Homo sapiens: one gene and its partners. The protein of the gene in region 7 purifies or fractionates together with the protein of the main gene of each other region. This does not show direct contact. Each region holds a gene or a part of one and is shown on either strand. Other genes may lie near its edges.

The links.
Region 1: the proteins of SLFN11 (region 7) and DDX56 purify together in Homo sapiens (affinity purification with mass spectrometry, with the first as the bait; one study listed by BioGRID). This does not show direct contact.
Region 2: the proteins of SLFN11 (region 7) and HELZ purify together in Homo sapiens (affinity purification with mass spectrometry, with the first as the bait; one study listed by BioGRID). This does not show direct contact.
Region 3: the proteins of SLFN11 (region 7) and CASP9 purify together in Homo sapiens (affinity purification with mass spectrometry, with the first as the bait; one study listed by BioGRID). This does not show direct contact.
Region 4: the proteins of SLFN11 (region 7) and DDX55 purify together in Homo sapiens (affinity purification with mass spectrometry, with the first as the bait; one study listed by BioGRID). This does not show direct contact.
Region 5: the proteins of SLFN11 (region 7) and SMARCA1 purify together in Homo sapiens (affinity purification with mass spectrometry, with the first as the bait; one study listed by BioGRID). This does not show direct contact.
Region 6: the proteins of SLFN11 (region 7) and MKI67 purify together in Homo sapiens (affinity purification with mass spectrometry, with the first as the bait; one study listed by BioGRID). This does not show direct contact.

What each region holds. Positions count from the first base shown.
Region 1 is NC_000007.14:44,568,107-44,570,908, forward strand, and holds part of DDX56 (probable ATP-dependent RNA helicase DDX56), read right to left. Parts: intron 2,772-2,802; coding exon 2,652-2,771; intron 2,023-2,651; coding exon 1,909-2,022; intron 1,798-1,908; coding exon 1,703-1,797; intron 1,098-1,702; coding exon 1,024-1,097; intron 887-1,023; coding exon 797-886; intron 118-796; coding exon 12-117; intron 1-11. UniProt on the Homo sapiens protein: Nucleolar RNA helicase that plays a role in various biological processes including innate immunity, ribosome biogenesis or nucleolus organization. Plays an essential role in maintaining nucleolar integrity in planarian stem cells.
Region 2 is NC_000017.11:67,235,197-67,238,696, forward strand, and holds part of HELZ (probable helicase with zinc finger domain), read right to left. Parts: intron 1-3,500. UniProt on the Homo sapiens protein: May act as a helicase that plays a role in RNA metabolism in multiple tissues and organs within the developing embryo.
Region 3 is NC_000001.11:15,500,216-15,503,715, reverse strand, and holds part of CASP9 (caspase-9 isoform alpha precursor), read left to right. Parts: intron 1-3,500. UniProt on the Homo sapiens protein: Involved in the activation cascade of caspases responsible for apoptosis execution. Binding of caspase-9 to Apaf-1 leads to activation of the protease which then cleaves and activates effector caspases caspase-3 (CASP3) or caspase-7 (CASP7).
Region 4 is NC_000012.12:123,600,696-123,604,898, reverse strand, and holds the start of DDX55 (ATP-dependent RNA helicase DDX55), read right to left. Parts: upstream 2,801-4,203; 5' UTR 2,751-2,800; coding exon 2,643-2,750; intron 1,052-2,642; exon of another isoform or gene 1-1,051. UniProt on the Homo sapiens protein: Probable ATP-binding RNA helicase. Has ATPase activity and is involved in the maturation of precursor large subunit rRNAs.
Region 5 is NC_000023.11:129,448,249-129,450,490, reverse strand, and holds part of SMARCA1 (SWI/SNF-related matrix-associated actin-dependent regulator of chromatin subfamily A member 1), read left to right. Parts: intron 1-2,047; coding exon 2,048-2,158; coding exon of another isoform or gene 2,159-2,182; exon of another isoform or gene 2,183-2,189; intron 2,190-2,242.
Region 6 is NC_000010.11:128,116,424-128,119,923, forward strand, and holds part of MKI67 (proliferation marker protein Ki-67), read right to left. Parts: intron 2,897-3,500; coding exon 2,830-2,896; intron 114-2,829; coding exon 68-113; intron 1-67. UniProt on the Homo sapiens protein: Protein that associates with the surface of mitotic chromosomes and acts both as a chromosome repellent during early mitosis and chromosome attractant during late mitosis.
Region 7 is NC_000017.11:35,353,214-35,356,621, reverse strand, and holds part of SLFN11 (schlafen family member 11), read left to right. Parts: intron 1-2,562; coding exon 2,563-3,286; intron 3,287-3,408. UniProt on the Homo sapiens protein: Inhibitor of DNA replication that promotes cell death in response to DNA damage. Acts as a guardian of the genome by killing cells with defective replication.

The DNA of each region.
Region 1 (2,802 bases), on a different chromosome or scaffold from region 7:
GCCACACTCACCCAGGTAGTCAGGAACATGGCCCAGGTGGGGCTTCACCACTGCGGGGTGCAAAGGTAGGTCATGCCGCAGCAGCTGGAGGTCCCTAGGGTTGTCTTCAAAGTATGTCTGCCGGGGGAAGAGGGAGAGCCACAGAGTGAGCATCTTTCTTCTGTGACTTCACAGACCTAGCTTTTCAAAGGATAACACACTCATGTGTTTCAAAAGGCATGAGGCAGCTGCTTCTGTGCATTTCTCAGAACCTCCCGGGAGTGGATGTTTCCATTTTCCCTTCTCCATGACACACATGGCAGTACCCTGTACCCCTTTTTGCTGGGCATCATCTTACAGACTGTTCCATATGGACACGCAACCAACCTCATTCCTTCCCATGTAACCTTCGGCTCTGAATGCACCTGAGTTTACCTAGCAAGCCCCCTATGGTGGCCCCAGGCTGTTTCCATCTTTTGGTTCCATGATAATGCCATGGATGGATGAATGCAGGCACATGCTTGACTGTGCACATTCACAAGCGTGACCAGGATTAAGTTCCAGAAGTGGAATTTCGGATGAAAGGACACATGAGCTCGTAATTCTGCTGGACAGTGTCCACCATAAGGTTGTGCCAATTTACCACCAAGCAGAACAGACTGGCTTCCTTCCATGATTCTGGGTCCATTTCCTCCCCTTCCGTGCCAAAGGCCAGAAAACTGCCCAGTTCTCTGCTTCTCACCACTCGGAGCTCAGCCAGTCTCCAAAAAGGGCAGCCGTCTAAGATCTATCCCCTTCTCACCTCCCATCCACTCACCTTAAGCTTCTCAGAATGCAGAAGCTCTTCCTTGATCTCCTTCAATCTTGCCTCCCGAATGGCCTGCTTAGTCACTGAGCGCATGGCATCCTGGGGGTGGACACTGAAGGTCAAGACAGTGAGGCTGCCCCAAATCCTCCCTTCACACCTGGATGCTCAGCAAGACGGTGCAATCCCTGGGCCACAGCCCCTCCCCTCTCATTCCCCTCCCCACCACAGCAGCTCACCCTGCAGCGATAGCGGAAGCCCTCGATCTCCTCCATCCGGAACTGGTAGGGGAGCAGAATGGGGCCCCTGTTCTCTGTGGAGAAGAAAGCAGCGAGGGTCCCACAGGCTGAGGCCTTAGGATAGGGTCTTCATTGGAGGCCTCCTGCACCTCCCCCTTGGGGGAAAGCAGCAGGGGACCCACCGCCTTCCTGGGATGCCGAACATGCAGGTTAGCTGCACCTGGGCCTCTTACAGTGATGACCCATCTGTCCCCGTGTGTGGATGGGGGTGGCCTGTGTGGCCCCAAGCCCAAGAACCCGTCACCCACTCTCTTCTCCTCTCCCAAGGAGTACCCCATGGTATTCCTTGGGAGTCAAGGTACCCCCATGACGACGGCCACAGAGAGCAGTCCAGGACCACCCAGCACCCTGGGGTCAGGTGCTGTCCTGAGCTGTCACAGCAGCCTGTCAGGTCACTCAACGCTCATGAGGCAGACAGTAAACACAACTTTGGACAAATTACCTCAATTTGTTTATCTCTCAAGGGGGACAGTGCCTGCCACTCAGGGCAGAACAAGGATGGATGGTGGAAGTGGCCTGTCACACTATGTTGTGACCTCTGTCATCATTATCATGGAGTTTTAAAGCATTGTGGAAGAAGCCTGACCCTGGCCCAGGACCACAAGAGCCAGGCTCTTACCTCCACTGAGAAGCTCCTCAATCTTGCCTAAGTGGAACTGCTCCGTGGGAAGCACAAAGGTTAAGACTATGCCTGGGTTGTTAGCGCGTGCTGTCCTGCAAGGGAAGACAGTGCAGCTTGCATCTCCAACCCGCAGGCTCTGTCCAGCACACCCCAAGTCCCTCAGTGTGCCTACCATGCAGATGCCTGGGCCGTCACACTACTACCTGCCAGCTCGATGGATGTAGGCCTCAGGGGTTGGGGGAAGATCAAAGTTGAGCACAGCAGACACATGGTGGAAGTCTATGCCCCGGGCCACACCTGCTTCCGGATCAGAGGCCCTGCAGAGATAACTCAATGTCAGCCGGACCCTTCCTCTCCTCTGGGCACGTATTCACACGCTGAATCAGCAAAACTTCCTCTAAATGCCTGTAGATCATAAGACCCTGACATACAGAGGACTCTCCAACAATGGAACCGTTCCAGGAGTCAGGGTTTCCTGGGGCAGCCTGGAGCTTTGACATGTACCCAAATCTCGGCCTGACCTCTGTTCTGGGACAACAGCAGAACTCATTGCCCTACATGGTGATCTGAAAACCAACTCTGAGCTAGTCAAGCCTTCAGCTGGACAGAGACTGGAGAGTTGGGGGGTTCCTTTTCCCTTCAGAAATATGCTCCCTGCAAGTCACAGCCATACCACCAATGCAGGATGGGCCATCTCCCCTGCAGGGCTCTGCATGCCAACAACCCCGGCAGTTTTGCCCTTCGTGGTGCATGTGCAGTGTGCACCATCCACTCCCTTCTCTATATCCAGGCAGCTGAGCAAGAACCTGTGGGGCTCTCTGGGCTACACTACCAGCCAGGCCTGGAAGGTTTGGCTCCCTGCTCTGTGCACTCTGGTTTTAGTCTTCCAAAAAGCTAAAAACACAGGCATTTCTGGGGAGGGATGGAAAAAGAGGCATGGACTCACTTGTCCCCTTTGGGCCCTCGGCCCCGACGCTTGCCCTTGACTGGGGCCCCCAGGACTTCAGCATCAGTTGCTATGACACAGTCGTAGAAGCCTTGGTTGAACTGTGAGATGATGTGGCACCTGCAGCCAAGAGCGGACAGAGAATCAGCTC
Region 2 (3,500 bases), about 32 Mb from region 7:
TCCAAGCAGCCACAAAGAGACAACAGAAGGCCGGGCGCGGTGGCTCACACCTGTAATCCCAGCACTTTGGGAGGCCAAGGCGGGTGGATCACGAGGTCAGAAGTTCAAGACCAGCCTGAACAACATGGTGAAACCCCGTCTCTACTAAAAATACAAAAATTAGCAGGGCATGGTAGTGCGCACCTGTAATCCCAGATACTCAGGAGGCTGAGGCAGGAAAATCACTTGAACCAGGGAGGCGGAGGCTGCAGTGAGTCGAGATCGTGTCACTGTACTCCAGCCTGGGCAACAGAGCGAGACTCCCTCACAAAAAAAAAAAAAAGAGAGAGACAACAGAAGCCAGAACCCACAAATGGTCAAGCCTCAAGCAGTGTCCTGCTTCAACCCAGCACATGCCATCACAAGAACTTGAGAACCACTCAGAGGAGCAGTGATACAAAGGGGCTCACAGCAGATGCCCAATAAATACTTGCTGAACTGAATCCTGGAATAATCCATCTGTTCCCCTTCAAACACTCTTCCCAAGATCATTTACCATTTTGACCACACACTCTTTTTTTTTTTTTTTTTTTTTTTTGAGACGGAGTCTCCCTCTTTTGCCCAGGCTGTACGCAGTGGTGCTATCTCTATCTCGGCTCACTGCAAGCTCCACCTCCCGGGTTCACACCATTCTCCTGCCTCAGACTCCCGAGTAGCTGGGACTACAGGCACCTGCCACCACGCCCGGCTAATTTTTTGTATTTTTAGAAGAGACGGGGTTTCATCGTGTTAGCCAGGATGGTCTCGATCTCCTGACCTCCTGATCCGCCCGCCTTGGCCTCCCAAAGTGCTGGGATTACAGGCGTGAGCCACTGCACCCAGCCTCGACCACACACTCTTGTGAACAATTTTTACTGACCATATTATACCAGCCTTACCATTCAAAGCCTACAATAGTTAATTGCATAATATAGCAACTGATATCAACAAACAGTTCACCATAAAGAGGCTCAAATAGTTAAATTCAACATTATATAACAAAGAAATGAAAGTGCCATTTTACACTATTAAATTCACAAAAACTTCTGAAGAAAAATGGTTTTCTCTACTACTTATGGTAAAACAGGTATATCCATATATCTGTTAGGAGCACAAACTGGTATAACACCCTTGAAAACAGTAGGACAATATATGTGAGGAGCCATAAAAACACTGATACCCCTTAACATAATAACACACTCCAAAATTTATCCTTAAGATATCATTAGAAAAAATGCAACAGTATCTACAATGATGTAGATTAAAGTGTTAACTGAAAACCACCCAGACAGCAGTATAAATACTTCACATAAAAAGACTTAGGTAAATTGTAGCATGACTTGATGAAATTATTTTTGCAGCCTTTCAATATATAAAGTTAAATTATAAAATCTATAAGATGTAAATGTTTCATGATATAGTAAGTTTTTAAAAATCAAACTATAATGTATCATAATTTAAAATGAATTTTAAAATGTATATTTTGAAATGAAATGCCAAAAAGAAAATCAATTGTCTTAGGATAATAACCCAACATTTAACAATTTATTTATTATCAATTTATTCAACATTAAATAATAAAGTTCTACCCTACCAAGGAAATGAAGGGGTTCCAGGACACAAGCTTGATAAAGTCTCAAAAGGACCACCCCTCCCTTCTACTGCTCACTTTGGCCTTGACTGAGTGTTTTCATACTCTCCTTGGTCATGATGACCTATACTAACCCAAACCCCAGTTTTTCAAGGACCAGCCAACTGCCTCAATTGGTCCTCTGATCATCCCTATGAACCCGTGGGAGACAAATCATGCAAAACAAGCGAACACTCAAGAAACAAAGAACCTGGCCGGGCGTAGTGGTTCACGCCTGTAATCCCAGCACTTTGGGAGGCCAAGGCGGGTGGATCACCTGAGGTCAGGAATTCGAGACCAGTCTGACCAACATGGCAAAGTCCCAAGCTACTAGGGAGGCTGAGGCAAGAGAATCGCTTGAACCCAGGAGGCAGAGGTTGCAGTGAGCCGAGATCCCACCAGTGTACTCCAGCCTGGGCGACAGAGTGAGACTCTGTCTCGAAAAAAAACAATTTTTTTGATTTATTTATTAGTTTAACATTTATTACTTTAACAATTTACTTATTTATTACTTTAACCAATCAGCAAGTAGTCAGCCCAAGTTTCACTGTAAACCCTAAAAATATACAATATTGCCACATTAAAGTCTCTGGGATTCTCAAGGCTAACTTGCTGACTTAGCAGTGGACTGTATCAGTTAAAAGGCAGTGTGGACTCAGACAATCAAAGAACCAGGGGCCAGGAGACCTGAGAACAATTAAAAGCAAAATGTAGATAGATTTTTTTTTTAACTACAAAAAACACAAAGCTAAAAAGTCCAGCTTAAACCAGATGAGTAAAAAAATAGCTGGAGATATTCTTTTAAGTCTTAGCCAGAGTGCAAAAGGGAGGATGGAAAGTCATTTTATTAAGAGCTGAAGCTAGCCCGGCACAGTGGCTCACACCTGTAATCCCAGCTCTTTGGGAGGCCAAGGCGGGTGGATCACTTGAGGTCAGGAGTTCGAGACCAGCCTGACCAACATGGTGAACCCCCATCTCCAGTAAAAATACAAAATTAGTCAGGCGTGGTAGCGCACACCTATAGTCCCAGCTACTTGGGAGGCTGAGGCAGGAGAATCACTTGAACCCAAGAGGCAGAGGTTACAGTGAGCTGAGATCGCCCCATTGCACTCCAGCCTGGGCAACAAAAGCAAGACTCCATCTCAAAAAAAAAAAAAAAAAGACCTGAAGCTTTTTGCGGATGAAGATATCTCACAAAAGACAAGTACTGAAAATTCATGGCCAGGCATGGTGGCTCACACCTGTAATTCCAGCACTTTGGGAGGCCAAGGCAGGTGGATCATGAGGTCAGGAGTTTGAGACCAGCCTGGCCAACATAATGAAACCCCGTCTTTACTAAAAATACAAAAAAATTAGCCAGGCATGGTGGCAGGCACCTATAATTCCAGCTACTTGGGAGGCTAAGGTAAGGAGAATCGCTTGAACCTGGGAGGCAGAGGTTGCAGTGAGCTGAGATTGCACCACTGCACTCCAGCCTGGGCGACACTGCCAAGACTCTGTCTCTCAAAAAAAAAAAAAAAAAAAAAGGAAGAAAATTAATTTAAAAATAATTTTAGGTCGGGTGCGGTGGCTCACGCCTGTAATCCTGACACTTTGGGAGGCCGAAGCGAGTGGATCACCTGAGGTCAGGGGTTTGAGGCCAGCCTGGCCAACATGGTAAAGCCCTGGCTCTACTAAAAATACAAAAAGTAGCTGGGCATGGTGGCGGGCGCCTGTAATCCCAGCTACTCAGGAGGCTGAGGCAGGAGAATTGCTTGAACCCAGGAGGCGGAGGTTGCAGTGAGCCGAGATCGTGCCATTCATTGCACTCCAGCCTAGGTGACAAAAGCGAAACTCCGTCTCAAAAAAATAA
Region 3 (3,500 bases), on a different chromosome or scaffold from region 7:
TCCAGCTGTGACATGGGCACCTGTGGTCTATTTCTCCTGTGCACATCCAACTGCCCCATCCCTATTCCACGTTGGTGGAGTTGGGTGGAGGCTACCTAGGAGAGCAGTCTCTGGTCACATCATTCATCCAGTAAGTGTTTATTGAGCACCATCTGTATATACCAGGCTGTGCGTTAGGTGCTGGGGATAGGGGAAAAACAGAGTTTCAGTCTCCTGGAATTTATAATTTGACATGAACTGTATTAAGTCACTGTCATGACCCATGCCCATAACTTGACCACAAGTGATTGAGAACACTTGATTAACCCTGGATGGGCTACTGACCTATCTATCACACAGCCCTGGGCCAGTTCATCTCTAGACAGCTCAGCAAATGGGGAAAATAACAGAACCCACTCCCAAGCTCAGGTGATCCTCCCACCTCAGCCTCCTGAGTAGCTGGGGCTACAGGTGCACACTACCATGCCCAGCTAATTTTTCTATTTTTTTTTTGTAGAGACAGGGTTTTGCCATGTTGCCCAGGCTGGTCTTGAACTCCTGGGTTCAAGCAATCTGCTCACTTCGGCCTCCCAAAGTGCTGGGATTACAGGCGTGAGCCACTGTGCCCAGGCAACTTTAATAATATTTAATGCACTAATTGGTGTGTGTACAGTGATTGGTTCATTTTAATAACTGAAAACCCAGCCTGCCCCCCGCTCCCACCCCGGAGGACCCAGTGTCACATAAGAGTCCCCCACCCCGCTGTCGCCAGCAGAGTTCCCTCAGGACAACAGTAACAGGAAGTGAGGAAGGCTGCCACTCTCGGGGCTGTAGAAACCCTGCTCTGCCTCACCTCCTGTCTTATCCACAGTGTGTGGTCCAGCAATGCTCTTCCTTCGGAGCCTCCGGTCCCTCTTTCTCCTATGAATCAAATGAAAGACAGAAAGGGCAGGGGAATTAGGAATGCAGGCTGAGCAGGCATACCTACTTTCTGGACAGTTAGTCAGTCTTGTGCTCCTCCCATGCCCCATCCAGTCTCAGTCTCAACAGCAGGGAGGGCCTTTGTCACGTGAATATCTGCTGTCACTCTTAGGACTCAGTAGCAGGGCTTCCAAGGCCTTTGGTGACCTGGCCCCTGCCACTTCACCTTCCCCAGCCTGGCATGCTCCGAGTCCCCAGCACGGCCCAGCCTTCCCAGGATGTCCAGGCTCTTGCTTGCTCTTCTACCTGCTCCCCTGGCTAACTCTTTTTTTAAAATTCATTTTTACTTATTTTGTTTTAGAGATGGGGGTCTCACTATATTGCCCAGGCTAGTCTTGAACTGTTGGGTTCAAGTGATACTCCCACCTCCGCCTCCCAAAGTGCTGGGATAACAGGCATGAGCCACCGTGCCTGGCACCTGGCTGACTCTTAATCATCCATCCTTCTGGTTACAATTTATTGTCACTTCCCTAAACACCCCCTTTCTTGGCCAAAGTCAGGGTTAGCTGGCCTTTGTGCTCCTGCAGCCTCTGTCCCTCCCCTACCATAGCACTGTCTCATTGTATTGAGATGGGCTTATCCCCTGGTCAGCTCTGAGGGGAGGGCCAGGCCTACCCTGCAGCCAGGCCCCCAGCCTGGCACAGAGCCCACAGTCTGGTTGCGTCTCATGTGGATTCTAATTTGAATGTAAAGGAGAACCATACAAAAGCATCTGTGGTGGTTCACGCCTGTAATCCCAACAGTTTGGGAGGCCAAGGTGGGAGGATCTCTTGAGACGAGGAGTTTGAGACCAGTCTCTATCATAAAATTTAAAACATTAGCCAGGCCTGGTGGTGTGTGCCTATGGTCCCAGCTACTTGGGATGTTTAGGCAGGAAGATCGCTTGAGCCCTGGAGGTCGAGGCTACAGTGAGCCATGTTTACACTATTGCACTCCGGCCTGAGTGACAGAGCCAGTCTGTCACCTGTCTCTAAAAAAATAAAAAATAAAAAAAAAATATGAGCCAAATTTGGCATAATGTAGATTTCCATCATTAAAACAAAACTCACAGAAAACAGCAAGATTTCAAAGCCAGCATGCAGTGATTAAGATATCCCTTTGGAGTCGGGTCCTTGCTTTGCCTCCGCAGGCTGCGTGACCTGGTGCTTAACGCAGTTACCACATGGTGGCGCCACGTCAGCTGAGAGCAGAAATAGAAAGGTCCCCGTTCTTCACTAGTGCCTGGCGAGGGGTCTGTTTACATGCATCAGAACACCTGTCCTGGGTTTTGAGGACTCTTGTATTGCTATTTTATAACTCACTATAATACTTTAAAAATATTTAATTTAAAAATCATTTAATAATTAATTTAAATATAATAATAAATAATTTAAAAATCATTTTTAAATAATAATTTTAAAACCCTCCAACATGTCATCCACCCATTCATTAGGAGGTAACAGCACCAGGGCTGAAAAATGTGCATTAAAGTCGATAACTTTGGTGTGCAACGTCAGCGTGATAGGCAACCAAGTAGCCACCTCTCTGAGGCTGAGCCGTCAATTTTGGGGTGACCCCTCTTTGGGATTTGAGAGATCGGGCTGAGAAGACAGAAAGCAATGACAATATGCTGCAGTGGTCGTGGATTTTCTGTGCGGAGGGAACATCTCCTCCTACTGTATATTTATTCTTGTGGGGAATGAGTCCTGCCCTACGGGGAGTTTTGCATTAATGAGGCTCTCTAAGAACCGAGGCTCTCCAAGAACCAAGCCATGCATACAGTGCAGAACACCCTAGGCAAGGCCTTCACATCAGATTTGTGGGCTGAGGCTGACACGTGAACGGAGCTGCCTTAGCGCCCCGCCTGACCCCCTCTTTCCTTTCCCCCACACCCCCTGCTCTGATCTGCTGTCTCTTCTCAGCCTCTCTGCTCACCCTGTCTCTTCTGGCCATTCTTAACGGCATCCCCCACTTAGGCATCCCTCCGCCCCCACAGGCTGCCAGGCAGACCCAGCACCATCACATTCACGCCTCAGGCCTCCTTGCTGTGCTGTTTCACGTCATTCCCAGACACCTGGGGCAGATTCCGGAGTCTCTACCAAGAAAACAACCAGAAGCAATGAACCACAAAATCTGGAGAAAAACATGGCTGTCACAGATCAAAGAGGCCCCCCTTTGGAGGCTGGGGGCCTCCGTGAGAAGCAGTGGGATAGTTGAGAGGCAAAAAACATGGGGCAGAATTCCGCGCCCCTCATATCAGCTGGGAGAATGCCAATGACCAGTGGTTTCTGAGCTTTAGCTGTGTGGGGTAAGAGGTCAATAGATTTTGGTGTTACTATTATGGGGTTGCCAGAGCCACCTCTGTTCCTGCCAGATGGGCCCCCAGCTCCTCTGGGTGAACTGTGACTTCCCTCAGTCACATAGATCCAGCCATGCAAACCTGCCTGCGTTGCGGCCACAGCACTTGCTGTCTCTCTCACCAGGACCGTTCTCCCTGATGGCATCAGGGCCTGGATCACAGTCACATTCTCCAGGAGTGTTTTTGCAGGGGACCCTCTGGA
Region 4 (4,203 bases), on a different chromosome or scaffold from region 7:
ATAGTGCCAACAGTGAGGACCCTGCTTCAGGCCATTGCTGTCCAATAGAAATAAAATGTGAACCACATAAACAATTTTAAATTTTCTAATAGCCATAGTAAGAAAAGTAAAAAGAAATGGGTGAAATAAATTTTAATATTTTATTTAACCCAATATATCAAAAATATTGTCCCTTCACATTTAGTCAATATTTAAAAATCAGCATTTTCCATTCTTTTTTCATACTAGGTCTTCAAAATCTAGTGTGTTATTTGATACTCAGAGTACACTTTGATTTGGACAAAGTGTATTTCAAGCACTTGATAGCCATGTCTGATGACTGTGTAGTGGATGACAGGTCTAGACAATGAGCTCTGAGGCCAGAGATTGGGTCTTGCTCGCACTACATTCCCTAGGCAGGGCACATAGCACTCCCAGTTTTCATCTCCAGCCCTGCCTGCTGGAAATACATTCTCCACATTCCCGGGAATCTTATGGGCATCTCAAACTCAAGACTTCATTTATTTAAAAAAAATTTTTGTGATGACAGGGCCTCCCTATGTTGCCCAGGCTGGTCTTGAACTCCTGATCTCAAGTGATCCTCCCACCTTGGTCTCCAAAAGTGCTAGGATTACAGGCGTGAGCCACCGTGCCCGGCCATTATTTATTTTAATTTCGAAGATGCGGGTCTCACTATGTTGCTCAGGCTGGTCTTGAACTCCTGGGCTCAAGGGATCCTCCCACCTCAGCCTTCCAAACAAATGGTACTACAGGCGGGTGCCACTGTACCCAGCTCAGTGTTTAAAAACAGGACTCTTGTGGTCAGGCGCAGTGGCTCACTCCTGTAATCCCAGCACTTTGGGAGGCCAAGGCGGGCGTACCTGAGGTCAGGAGTTCAAGACCAGTCTGGCCAACATGGCGAAATCCCGTCTCTACTAAAAACACAAAAATTAGCCAGGCGTGGTGGTGTATGCCTGTAACCCCAGCTACTTGGAAGGCTGAGATGGGAGAATAGCTTGAACCCGGGAGGCAGAAGTTGCAGTGAGCCGAGATCGTGTCATTGCACTCCAACCTGGGCAACAGAGAAAGATTCCGTCTCAAAAAAGTTAAAAACAAACAAACAAACAAAAAACAAAAAAAAGAACTCTTGACTTTCCCTCTGAAACCTGATACGCACGCCAGTCATTCTTGGGAAATGGTAACACCATTCACTCAGCTACTAATAAAAATCAGCCGGGTGCGGTAGCTCAGCCTGTAATCCCAGCACTTTGGGAGGCCAAGGCGGGTGGATCAGGAGGTCAGGAGTTCAAGACCAACCTGGCCGAGATGGTGAAACCCCGTATCTACTAAAAATACAAAAAATTAGCCGGGCATGGTGGCAGGCACCTGTGATCTCAGCTACTTGGGAGGTTCAGGCAGAGAATTGCTTGAACCCAGGAGGCGGAGGTTGCAGTGAGCCGAGATCGCGCCACTGCACTCCAGCCTGGGCAACAGAGCGAGACTCCATCTCAAAAAAAAAAAAAAAAAGAATAAAAACCTCAGGTCCTGTAGTCTTTTCTTTCCTAACCTCCACTTCCAGTCCCTTAGCAACCTTAAAGCTATCCCAAATGTGACTTCTCAGTATCCACTGGTTCCACCCTACTCCAAGTCACCATCATCTCTTACCTGACAATGGCCTCCTAAGCGACCTGCCTGCTTCATCTCTTATGCCTGGAAAGGCCACTCTCTACAGAGAAATCACAGCCCTTCCCTTCCTAAACATCCTCCCAGATAAGATGGCTTCCCACTACATTTAGAATGAAATCCAAGCGCCTACAAGACCCTGCACAATCCATCTCTTACACTACTCTTGATGTTCAGCCACAAAGGCCTCCTTTCTGCTGCTCAAACTATTTGCAGCCTGCCGCAGGGCATTTATGTGCACTGGTATTTCTCTCCAGTGGAATAATCTCCCCCTAGTCACCTCAGAGCCAGCTCCTTCTCAATCACTGAGGTCTCAGCTCAATGCACCTCCTCAGAGAGGCCTTCCTTAACACCCTATCTCACCTCCTCTGCAGTCCTCGCGCGACACTATCACAACCGTCTTAGTTCTTTCATAACACTTACCAGCAGCTGAAATTATCCTTTCTCTAGCTCTTGCACTAGAAAGTAAGGCTATGAGCAGATGCCAATACTGCAAACTCCCCAGAGCCTAGAAGAGTTCCTGACACATAGCAGGTCCTCAAGAAATATTCTTGAAGAGATGCATAACAACGGTAACCCTTACTGAGCTCCCATAGTGTGCCGACTGGTTTATTTAGTCCCCACAGCAACCCCATAAGGAGGGTGTTATTTTTTCGTCATTTCACAGAGAAGGAAAATGAAGCACGGAGAGGTTAAGCCATTTGCCCGAGGTCTCACAGCTACAGCGAGCAGGGCCAGGATGAGAACCAGGCTTGAGACCACAGCACCCGAGGGCGGGGTGGGTCGCGGCCCCTCTGCCGGCTCGCTGGCCGGGCAGCTCCGCATTCCGCCAGTCTGGGCAGCTGGAGACAAGGCAAGAGCCCCAGCTGGAGGGATGAGCGCCCCAGGGCTCAGATCTGTCCGATCACCTCCTGTGGGTCCGATGCAGCGGGTGCCTGCCCCTCTCCCAGCCTCACTCCCCCACGCCAGGGAACCGATACCTGCACCGGCGTCATGTACGGGAAGCCCAGCTCCCGCAGCGCGCCCAGCACCTGCGGGTGCAGCGGCACAGGCAGCGACTCCCAGGAGCCCTCTGTCACATGCTCCATGGCGCGCTCCTTCGCCGCGTCGGTCGCCGCTGCTCGAACGCGCCTTGTGCACCCCCAACGAGCACTTCCGCTTCCCGCAGCTCCAGCGGCCGGCCGGGAACTTCGCTGGAGCAGCAGAGTTCCGGAGCGCGGCGAAGGCTCCCACGCCGCGGGAGGGAGGAAAGGCGTCCGCGGGACGGTGGAGGCAGGCGGCGGGGCAGGCCTGGGGAGTTACACCCGCTCCGCACAGCGCCCTGGGCTCCGGGCGCCTCTCCGCACCGGGCAGGAGTTTTGGCGGGAGGGATTCTGGCCCGGCCCTCCCACTTTCTCTGCCCCTCGGAGGCAGGTGGCAGCACAGGACCGCGTCCAGGCCGAAGGACAGCGGGGCTGGCTACCGTGGGCAGAGAAACGTGTCGGGGACCCGGGTTAGCAGCCCTGCAAAACAGGCACCCGCTGATGGCCGGTACGTCCTGAATGTTGCGGTCCGATGGCCGGTACGTCCTGAATGTTGGTTTACTTTCCCGGAAGTTAGGGTCAGAGTCCTAACTAAGAACACTGTCCCATTCCTCTGTTCACTGTTTGCCTGGGCCATTCATGTCCACATACAACTTCACTCAGAAAGCTGTTTTTGTTGTTGTTGTTGTTGTTGTTGTTGTTTGAGACGGAGTCTCGCTCTGTTGCCCAGGCTGGAGGCTGGGCGCTATAACGGTTCACTGCAAGCTCCGCCTCCCGGGTTCACGCCCTTCTCCTGCCTCAGCCTCCCGAGTACCTGGGACTGCAGGCGCCCTCCACCACGCCCGGCTAATTTTTTGTATTTTTAGTAGAGACGGGGTTTCACCGTGTTAGCCAGGATGGTCTCGATTTCCTGACCTCGTGATCCGCCCGCCTCGGCCTCCCAAAGTGCTGGGATTACAGGCGTGAGCCACCGCGCCCGGCCTTCACTCAGCAAACTTTTATTGACCACTCATTATGTGCCCTCTATGAGGGCCTATCTCCTCCACCTATGTGCATGGCTTGCTCCTGTTGAGGCTCTGAAAACGAAACCCCAAAATGAAGGCCCCAGAGGCAGCCTCAGAAGCAAGTTTCTCTCTGACCTTCTGCTCCCTCTCTGATCTCTGATTCTCTGAGGCTAGCCATAGAAACTCAAGAATCCCTCTTGCCCATGACGGAGCATAGAAACAGGAATCCCTTTTCTCCACAGTCAGCCATAAAACCTAAAAATATTACTCTCTCTCCACCTTTCTGTGAAAAAACTGGCCATAAAGAAATTATTGGCCTGGCACGGTGGCTCACGCCTGTAATCTCACCACTTTGGGAGGCCAAAGCGGGCAGATCTCAAGGTCAGGAGTTCGAGACCAGCCTGGCCAATATGGTGAAACCCCGTCTCTACTAAAAATACAGAAATTAGCCAGGCGTGGTGGCGCATGCCTGTAGTCCCAGCTACTCAGGAGCCTGAGGCAGAAGAATCGCTTGA
Region 5 (2,242 bases), on a different chromosome or scaffold from region 7:
TGTCAAATTTGCTTTCAAGAAAGGTAGTGTATTAGTCAGCTTGGGCTGCCATAACAGAATGCCACAGACTGAGTGGCTTAAGCAACAGGAATTTATTTTCTCACCATTATGGAGACTGAAAGTTCAAGATCAAGGTGCCAGCAGGGCTGGTTTCTGGTGTGGCTTCTCCTCCTGGCTTGCAGATGGCCACCTTCTGCACGTGGCATTCTCATATGGCCCATTGTTGGAGTGCGTGCAGAGAAAGGGAGAGCTTTGATGTCTCTTCCACTTCTTACAAGGACACCAGTCCTATTGGATTAGGGCTCCATCCATAGGACCTCATTTAACCTTAATTACCTCCTTAAAGTCCCCATCTTCAAATACAGTCACAAGTCCCCATCTTCAAATACAGTCACATTGAAGGTTAGGGCTTCAGATGAATTTTGCGGAGACATACCTCAGTCCATAGCAGATAGTAGCATTGACATTTCATCATCAGTGAATGAAAGTTCCCGTTTCAGCATCTTATTGTCAATGTCAGATATGTATACCATATATGTGCACATGCACACAAGCATGTACATATTGCTAATTTGATGAAGATGGCATTGTTTTACTTTGCATTTCTTTGGTCATTAGTTGCAGTGAAACTTGATTATAATGTTTGGACTTTTTTTTTTTTGGTGAGTTTTCTATTCCTGTACTTTGACCATTTGTGTGTGTGTGTGTTGGGGTTGTTCTTAATTGCCAGTAAACCTACATTTTCACTTGAGTGTTTAGCTATTCTGGCAGGCATTTTTGCTTATACAGAAAAGGAATCATATTTTAAAATATTATTTATCCTTTGATATTAAACCATTATTTACCTTTAAAATATAGCAAAGTATACAGGGTTAATAATATATGATATTCCGTATTAATGAATCATGTTTAATGTTCACCATACATTCGTAAAAAGTATTTATAGTTTGCATGCATTGATTTGCTGACAGTGAAATATAGGTAGTGGCAAGGTTAATGTAGAAATCTTTTCAGATATTATTTGCTCTGAATTAACAAATACAGCAGTGTTTCCTGTGATGTGGTCCCCAGAACTCTGATCCCACAAGATGTCCGGTGAGAAGAAAGTCTGTTGGTTAAATATTTTTGACAACTGCTGCATCCTGTACGCCCCACCTAGTGGTTCACAGTGCACATAGGGAACTGAAAGGCTCTGAGAAGCCATGTAATAAGTAAATCTGTTTAACTTTTGTAAACTGGGTACTTCCAAAACTTATTTTGACCATAGAACATCCCCTTATTTTTTTTTGTTTATGTGATTTATGTTAACTTTTTATTTTGAAATAAGAAAATTCACAAAAAGTTGTAAAGAAAATGTACAGGGAGGTCTCATGCACCCTTCACCCAGTTTTCCCCAATAGTAACATTTTGCAAAACTATAGTAAAATATCACAACCAGGAAATTGACATTCGTGTAATCTATAGAGCTTGTTCAGATTTCATCAGTTATACATGCGCTCGTGTGTGTGTGTGTGTGTGTGTGTGCAGTTCAATGCAGTTTTGTCATGTGTAGAGTTGTGTAACCTCCACCACCATAAGACTCCATTGTGCTATCTCTTTACAGTCACACCTACCCTCTCTCCTCTCCCTAGCTCCCGGCAACCATTGATCTGTTCTCTCTTTCTATAATTTTGTCATTTAAGGATGTTATATAAATGGAATAATATGGTATGTAACCTTTCGAAATTAGCTTTTTTTTTTTACTTAGCATAATTCCCTTGAGGTTCATTCAGATTGTTAACTGTATTAATAGTTCTTTCCTTTTTATTGCTGAGTAATATTATATGATATGGATGTATCATGGTTTGTTTAACCAGTCATCCATAAATGACATTTACCCCCACTCCTAATTCTGGTGGAATCTATTAATACCCTGTGTGAATATTGTCCTGAAAAATAGCAGTTTTGGAAATTCTATACCACAGAAATCATACAGTTAAATAGTTGTCAGCGTTTTAAAGATAATGATTGGGTTGCAGAAATTAAAAATCTTTATTACTTCATTTAGGAATTCCAGAGACGCTGTAACACTCTGATTTCATTGATTGAGAAAGAAAATATGGAAATTGAGGAAAGAGAGAGAGCAGAAAAGAAGAAACGGGCAACTAAAACTCCAATGGTAAAATTTTCAGCATTTTCCTAACTTTTAGGTAGATCCCATTTTTTTACATAATTAAAATGCCTATATTATGTTTAATGCCAT
Region 6 (3,500 bases), on a different chromosome or scaffold from region 7:
TTTGCCAATATGCTTCGCAAAGACCTGATCTTTCAGGATTCTGGAACAAAACCCAACCACTACTCACCAGGGTCAGAAGAGAAGCTAGATCTTGAGACACGACGTGCTGGCTCCTGTAAGTTGGGAAAATAAGAACAGTTATTTGCAGGTCTTTCTAAATGATGACAGTCACAACAGTGAAAATATTATTTATTGTTTTCTGGCTGGGCATGATGGCTCATGCCTGTAATCCCAGCACTTTGGGAGGCCAAGGTGGGCGGATCACTTGAGGTCAGGAGTTTGAGAACAGCCTGGCCAACATGATGTAACCTCATCTCTACTGCAAATACAAACATTAGCTGGATGTGGTGGCAGGTGCCTGTAGTCCCAGCTACTCAGGTGGCCGAGGCAGGAGAATTGCTGGAACCCGGGAGGCAGAGGTTGCAGTGAGCAGAGATTGCACCACTGCACTCTAGCCTGGGCAATAAAGCGAGACTCTGTCTCAAAAAATAAAAATAAAAACAATAAAAAATTGTTTTCTTTACCAAACCACTCGTATATGACTTTTAAAGACTGTTTGAGAAATGAGCTCAAGTCAGTTGGGAGCTAGTGGTCAGGATAAAAGTACTTATTAGCTGACTCATTAAAAAATAGTGAGTGATTAATAGGAAACAAATTCGAGGCTTAAAATTACTAAAATCAAACCTCGGTGTGTTTTTATAACTTCCTTTAAAGATATTTCCCAACATCCTATTGCGGAAGAACCAAAGTCAATATTAAACATCACCTATACTGAAGATCTGTAACCCCCCACGAGCTCAGAACTACTGACTGCGTCATCAGTTTTCTCATAAATGGGCCATAGGACCTGTCGATGAACTGAGGCTCCACTTGGCATGTGCGCCCTCTTGGCTGGTGGATACTTAGGGTGGATCTGAGAGCCTAGATTCACCCTAGGTAAATTCATGGTACAGGCACACATGGTATATTCACAGATTCTGCAACCTCACAGCCTGGGAGCAGGCGCAGCGCCCCCACCTGGCTCCCCAGAGACAGCGCCCTAACTTTCCTTCATATGGAATTATTTCCGGAAGGGTGGAAGAACTAAAGAATAACATATATATATAACTTTTATAAAAGTCTGATGCCCCAAAGGAAGAAAAGCTTATCATCTGGATTATTAAGAAAATATCTAAAAAATATTAACAAAGGCAAAGAATCTAACTTCCTTAATCAATTTTAGGTTTCTTGATACGTAACACCTTGCTTCTAAAACTATCTATGTGAGGGATGGTTTTTTATTTCCAATCTGAAGTGGAACAAGAATCTTATGACTAAACAATATAAATGAACCACTAATAAAATTATGAATATGTAAAGTATATAATCTCACTTTTGTTGTACGATTACATTCAATAGCCACAAAATTGCTGTCGAATTGCTGTCATATTTACTACATACTCCATTTCAGTACTCACTATATCACAGACCAGTAACAGAACAAACAGTTCCTAGACTGCTGAGTGGCACATATCTAACCCACAGTTCAACTGGCTTTTTGGTTTATTTACTCCCATAGACTAGCAAGTTGCCTGGTGGCTACAGTGTGGGATGCCTCAGAAACTGGCTTCCAGCACGGGAACTGATGACCATCAGATTCAACATTAAGGCTGCTCCTCTAGGGAAGAAGGCAGTACTTAAATGGCAGAAATGGACTGGGCATGGTGGCTCAAGCCTGTAATCCCAGCACTTTGGGAGGCCCAGGTGGGTGGATCACGAGGTTAGGAGTTCAAGACCAGCCTGGTCAATATGGTGAAACCCTGTCTCTACTAAAAATACAAAAATTAGCCAGGCATGGTGGTGTGCACCTGTAGTCCCAGCTACTCGGGAGGCTGAGGCAGGAGAATTGCTTGAACCCAGGAGGCGGAGGTTGCAGTGAGCCAAGATCGCACCACTGCACTCCAGCCTGGGTGACGGAGTGAGACTCCGTCTCAGAAAAAAAAAAAAAAAAAAAGGCAGAAATGTTGAAATTCAAGAGTACCTACTGCTAATTTCAGGTGCACCTAAGATAACTCTCCTAAGCCAAGATATTCCAAGGAGCTCATCTGAAACTAGCTTTAGGAGCACTCTAAAATGTAGGAAAAATATGAATTCTCAGGGCTCATCCTAAGCCTAAATCCCACTAAATTTCCAAGCACATGCCGACAACTGTGTTTTAATAAGCTGTACAACTAAAATACCTCTTCCACACTGATATACTCAAACTATCTAAATTGCGAAGCACGTGTCGACAATTATGTTTTCATAAGCTGTACAATTGGAATACCTGTTCCACACTGATACACTCAAACTATAGGATTCTCTCACAAGACAAAGCACAGGATCCCTTTTCCTGTTTCATGGGTCGTCTATCTATCAAAATAGAGAAGCATCTTTGGCACTCATGATTTTCATAATGTGATTATTTCAGACACATAAAGACGGATGAGTACAATGACTGGGCGACAAAATGAGCCACCAGATAATGCAATTCCCAAATGTTAGCTCTACGTGTTGGGGTTATCCTAATCATGGGTTTGCAAAAAGCTCGCAACATGCTCTAATAGACTTTTTGGCTAAAAGTGTAAGACCAACTTAGTGCTCTGATTTTGAACAATAAAGAGGAAATATCATTTTAGATTATTTTAATACGTCTAAGTTCAACTCGTTTTTATACTTTAGTTACATTTTCCTACTATAACAGTAACCACCCTCTTTGTAACTGATTTCAAGTAAGAAATCATTAAAGCATACATAAATGATTTCATATCATCGAAACGAATCAGCCCAAACTTGGATATTTTCTATCACCTGTTCACGTATTTTTCTTGGAAATTCAGTTGACTTCCTTCCATTCTGAAGACTTTCATTTTCATACCTGCAGTTTATAGAACGACAAAGATCCTGATTAAAAATTTATACCCTGGGGCGGAAGTCTCCATATCCACTTAATGTCCAAGGATCAACGAACAAACTTTGGGTTTAGTTCAAGACATCACCTTATACAAAGAAATAAATTTAGAGTTAGAAAAGTGCTTTTACACTAAAAACTAGGATTAGTTGCATCGAGTTTGTTTTGAAATACCACTGTCAGAGGCTGGGGACCCAGATTAACTTCTGATCACTGACGAACAGCCCAGGTATGATTTGACAATATTACCAAGCACCTTCTATGACATAAGCTAATGCACATGAGAGCAAAGTCAAGTTTCTTCTAGTTTAAGTCCATGGAAATCATCGGATGGCTTGGAAGGCCAGCCAGGAAGCCTGTAGGTAACTGAATCTTTCTCACGTTGTGAAGTTACATACTTCAGGGTAAATAAAAAGCTACACTTACACTACAGGGTAACTACAAACCTATATTTTAGAACACTATGATCACTTCAGTTTCCCACACATTCAGTCTGTATCTGAACAAGACAGGTACATCTTAAGAAGATCACCTTTAGCAAGATACATAATTGTCCTGGCAAACCTCAGTG
Region 7 (3,408 bases):
GTGCATTGATATGGAAAGATCTCTACCATACATTGCTAAGTGAAGAAAAAAGTAGTTGCTGAATGGTTTGCTACCTGTTGGGAAAGAAAGGGCAGAATATTTGTTTGTATTTGCATAAAGTAATTTCGGAAGAATAGGCAAGAAACTTAAAAGTATCTGTGATAAGGGAGAAGGGTGAGATTGGGAAGGCAGGAAATTAAGAAAATGAGAGTAGGAGTGTTTGGGTATTTGGTATAGGAATATATTAACTAAAGTTATTTTTTTAAAAGACAATTTTCATTTTTGGAACACTGTTATTGTTATTAGATTTTGAACATTAATGGTGGTAAACAAACTATGTTTATACTTTTACAATTAGAATCCAGATATTAAGAATAAAGATGTTCTTAGCACACTAATTATTAGCATTGATTGACAATAATTTGGCTTCAGAATCAATGCTGTCAGTGCTTCTCTTGGAAGAAATGCAATGATTGTCTCAAATAGAAATTTTGTCTATAACTGGAGTTACTGGTACTAAAGATAGTCAGGGCCTGGTGTAGTAGGTCAGAATCAGCCAGCTCCAGTGTTCTTCCTCTTGGTGTCCTAAACCTTTAGGATACCTCACCTGATTGATTTCTTATGGTTTGAGAACAACTGCCCTGGACCCTTCACTGCTGATTCTAAAGATTCCCTAGATCCATGGTGAAATTAGTTCCCAGAATGGATACAAAGTGGGAGCTCTGAGGACAGAAGGATGAATATGGGAGTTCTGGGGAGGGTGAGGAGTTTATCAAGTGATCAAGGTGGAAGTCTTCAGAGTTTCAGAGCACACCTGTGCAAAGGCACAGAGTCCTCAAATCACATGGGGAGTGGTGACTACTCTGGTGCACCTGGAATGATGGCATTAATTGAACACCTAGTCTGGTCCCTATCATTACTGTTATGTGGAATATCAAAGAAATGAAAGAAGCACTTCTTATCTTCCTATAATTTCCTTCAGAAGCATGCTCCATTATACAATTAAAGAAAAAGAAGACCTATGCAATGATAAGGTAAATAAACATCAAGTGTTTTAGTGACTTTTACCATTTATCAGGCAGGAGTAGTCTGTGACTTGCAGGGCAGGGCAAAAACAGTAGAGGATCCGATGTCCAAGAGACTTGGGTTCAGACTCGCCCTGCCATTTCCTAGTGGTGTGATGTTGGGCAAATCACTTGATCTCTTTTATTTTTTATTTTTTGAGACAGTATCTTGCTCTGTCGCCCAGGATAGAGTGCAGTGGTGCAGTCATAGCTCACTGCAGCCTTAAATTCCCTGGCTCAAGCAATCCTCCCACCTCAGCCTCCTGAGTAGCTGGAACTACAGGCCCATAGCACTGCACCCAGCTCTCACTTGACCTCTTTGAGTCCTTATCTACTCATATGAAGATGGGAATAAATATGTCATCCTTGGAAAATTTGTGAAGACCAGAGATACATGCAAATTCCCTGGTAACAATCAACAAATGATGTATTTTCTTATTTTACATTTCTTTGGTTTCCAAAGCTTCATTTTAAACATATACTCAATTATCCTATTTTATCCATTCTAAGATGTGTATCTCCCCCTATATTTTAACATCTCTAAAATCTGGATGTGTCTCATAATAGATGCTATCTCCTACTGTCATCTAGGTTGCAGGGATAATCAAGTCGTGTGAGCACCTGGTACGAATGAGAAAGCACTAGCAACAATGAACAAGAAACAATTACCAATAAAATCTGGGTAATTTCATTTGAAATTACCACTACAAATCTTGATTTGGGTTTGTACTCTAACACTACCACAACAGGACAACAATTATCTTCCTCCCCCTCCCACTTTGGAACCCTTGATCATTGAAATAAGTTCATAATCCTCCAATGCAAGTATATTCTCGTGTCACATAATTATTTCTTGTTTGCCTGTGACACAGGGAAGACTTTTGTGGTAGTGGGGAGCCATACGTTGATCTTTAAGTGATGCAAGAATTCTGCTTCAGGAGAGATAGCTTTAAGAATCTTCCAGTCCAGGACTGCAGGAAATTCGCTGCCAACAAAGGTTTTAATATGACTCCCTCTCCTCTGCAACTATGGAGTTAATGACTACCTTCTTCCTGTGGCAGTGGAGGAGGGGGGGCTCCTGCTACTCCCAGCAATGGGGCATTTTGAGATTCAGGTACTTTGAAAGTAGAAAGGGGAGGAGGAGAACCAACATTTCTCAAGCAGCTACAATGAGCCAAACATTTTATGTTATTTCATTTATTCCTCCTCATAGGAAATGTGCTATTCTTAGTTTTGTTTTACAGATGAGACAGCAAAGTCTTAGGCTAAGGAATTTCCCAAGGTTATAAGTTGTAAAAAACACATGGGTTTAGATGAAGTATACCAGATATTCCAAGGGTTCTTTTCCTTTATAACTATAATATAATAATATTTATAAAATAGTATTTGAAACTTCTATAAGTAATCATTTAGTTAATCAATTAGTTAATTATAATTAGTCATCTTAATCAATAGGGTTATTTCTCTTCCTCTAATTTATCATTCTTTTCACATACAGTCCCACCAGGATATTTGCGATATACTCCAGAGTCACTCTGGAGGGACCTGATCTCAGAGCACAGAGGACTAGAGGAGTTAATAAATAAGCAAATGCAACCTTTCTTTCGGGGAATTTTGATCTTCTCTAGAAGTTGGGCTGTGGACCTGAACTTGCAGGAGAAGCCAGGAGTCATCTGTGATGCTCTGCTGATAGCACAGAACAGCACCCCCATTCTCTACACCATTCTCAGGGAGCAAGATGCAGAGGGCCAGGACTACTGCACTCGCACCGCCTTTACTTTGAAGCAGAAGCTAGTGAACATGGGGGGCTACACCGGGAAGGTGTGTGTCAGGGCCAAGGTCCTCTGCCTGAGTCCTGAGAGCAGCGCAGAGGCCTTGGAGGCTGCAGTGTCTCCGATGGATTACCCTGCGTCCTATAGCCTTGCAGGCACCCAGCACATGGAAGCCCTGCTGCAGTCCCTCGTGATTGTCTTACTCGGCTTCAGGTCTCTCTTGAGTGACCAGCTCGGCTGTGAGGTTTTAAATCTGCTCACAGCCCAGCAGTATGAGATATTCTCCAGAAGCCTCCGCAAGAACAGAGAGTTGTTTGTCCACGGCTTACCTGGCTCAGGGAAGACCATCATGGCCATGAAGATCATGGAGAAGATCAGGAATGTGTTTCACTGTGAGGCACACAGAATTCTCTACGTTTGTGAAAACCAGCCTCTGAGGAACTTTATCAGGTAAGCAGTTGGATCTTACGTCTCTAAGTATTATTTAATCTGGGTTTAATTTTTTCTGCTAAGTCACCGTCTTTCTTGAGAATTGAGTGGTAAAATGATCTGTGGTAATGTACTGTGCTCGG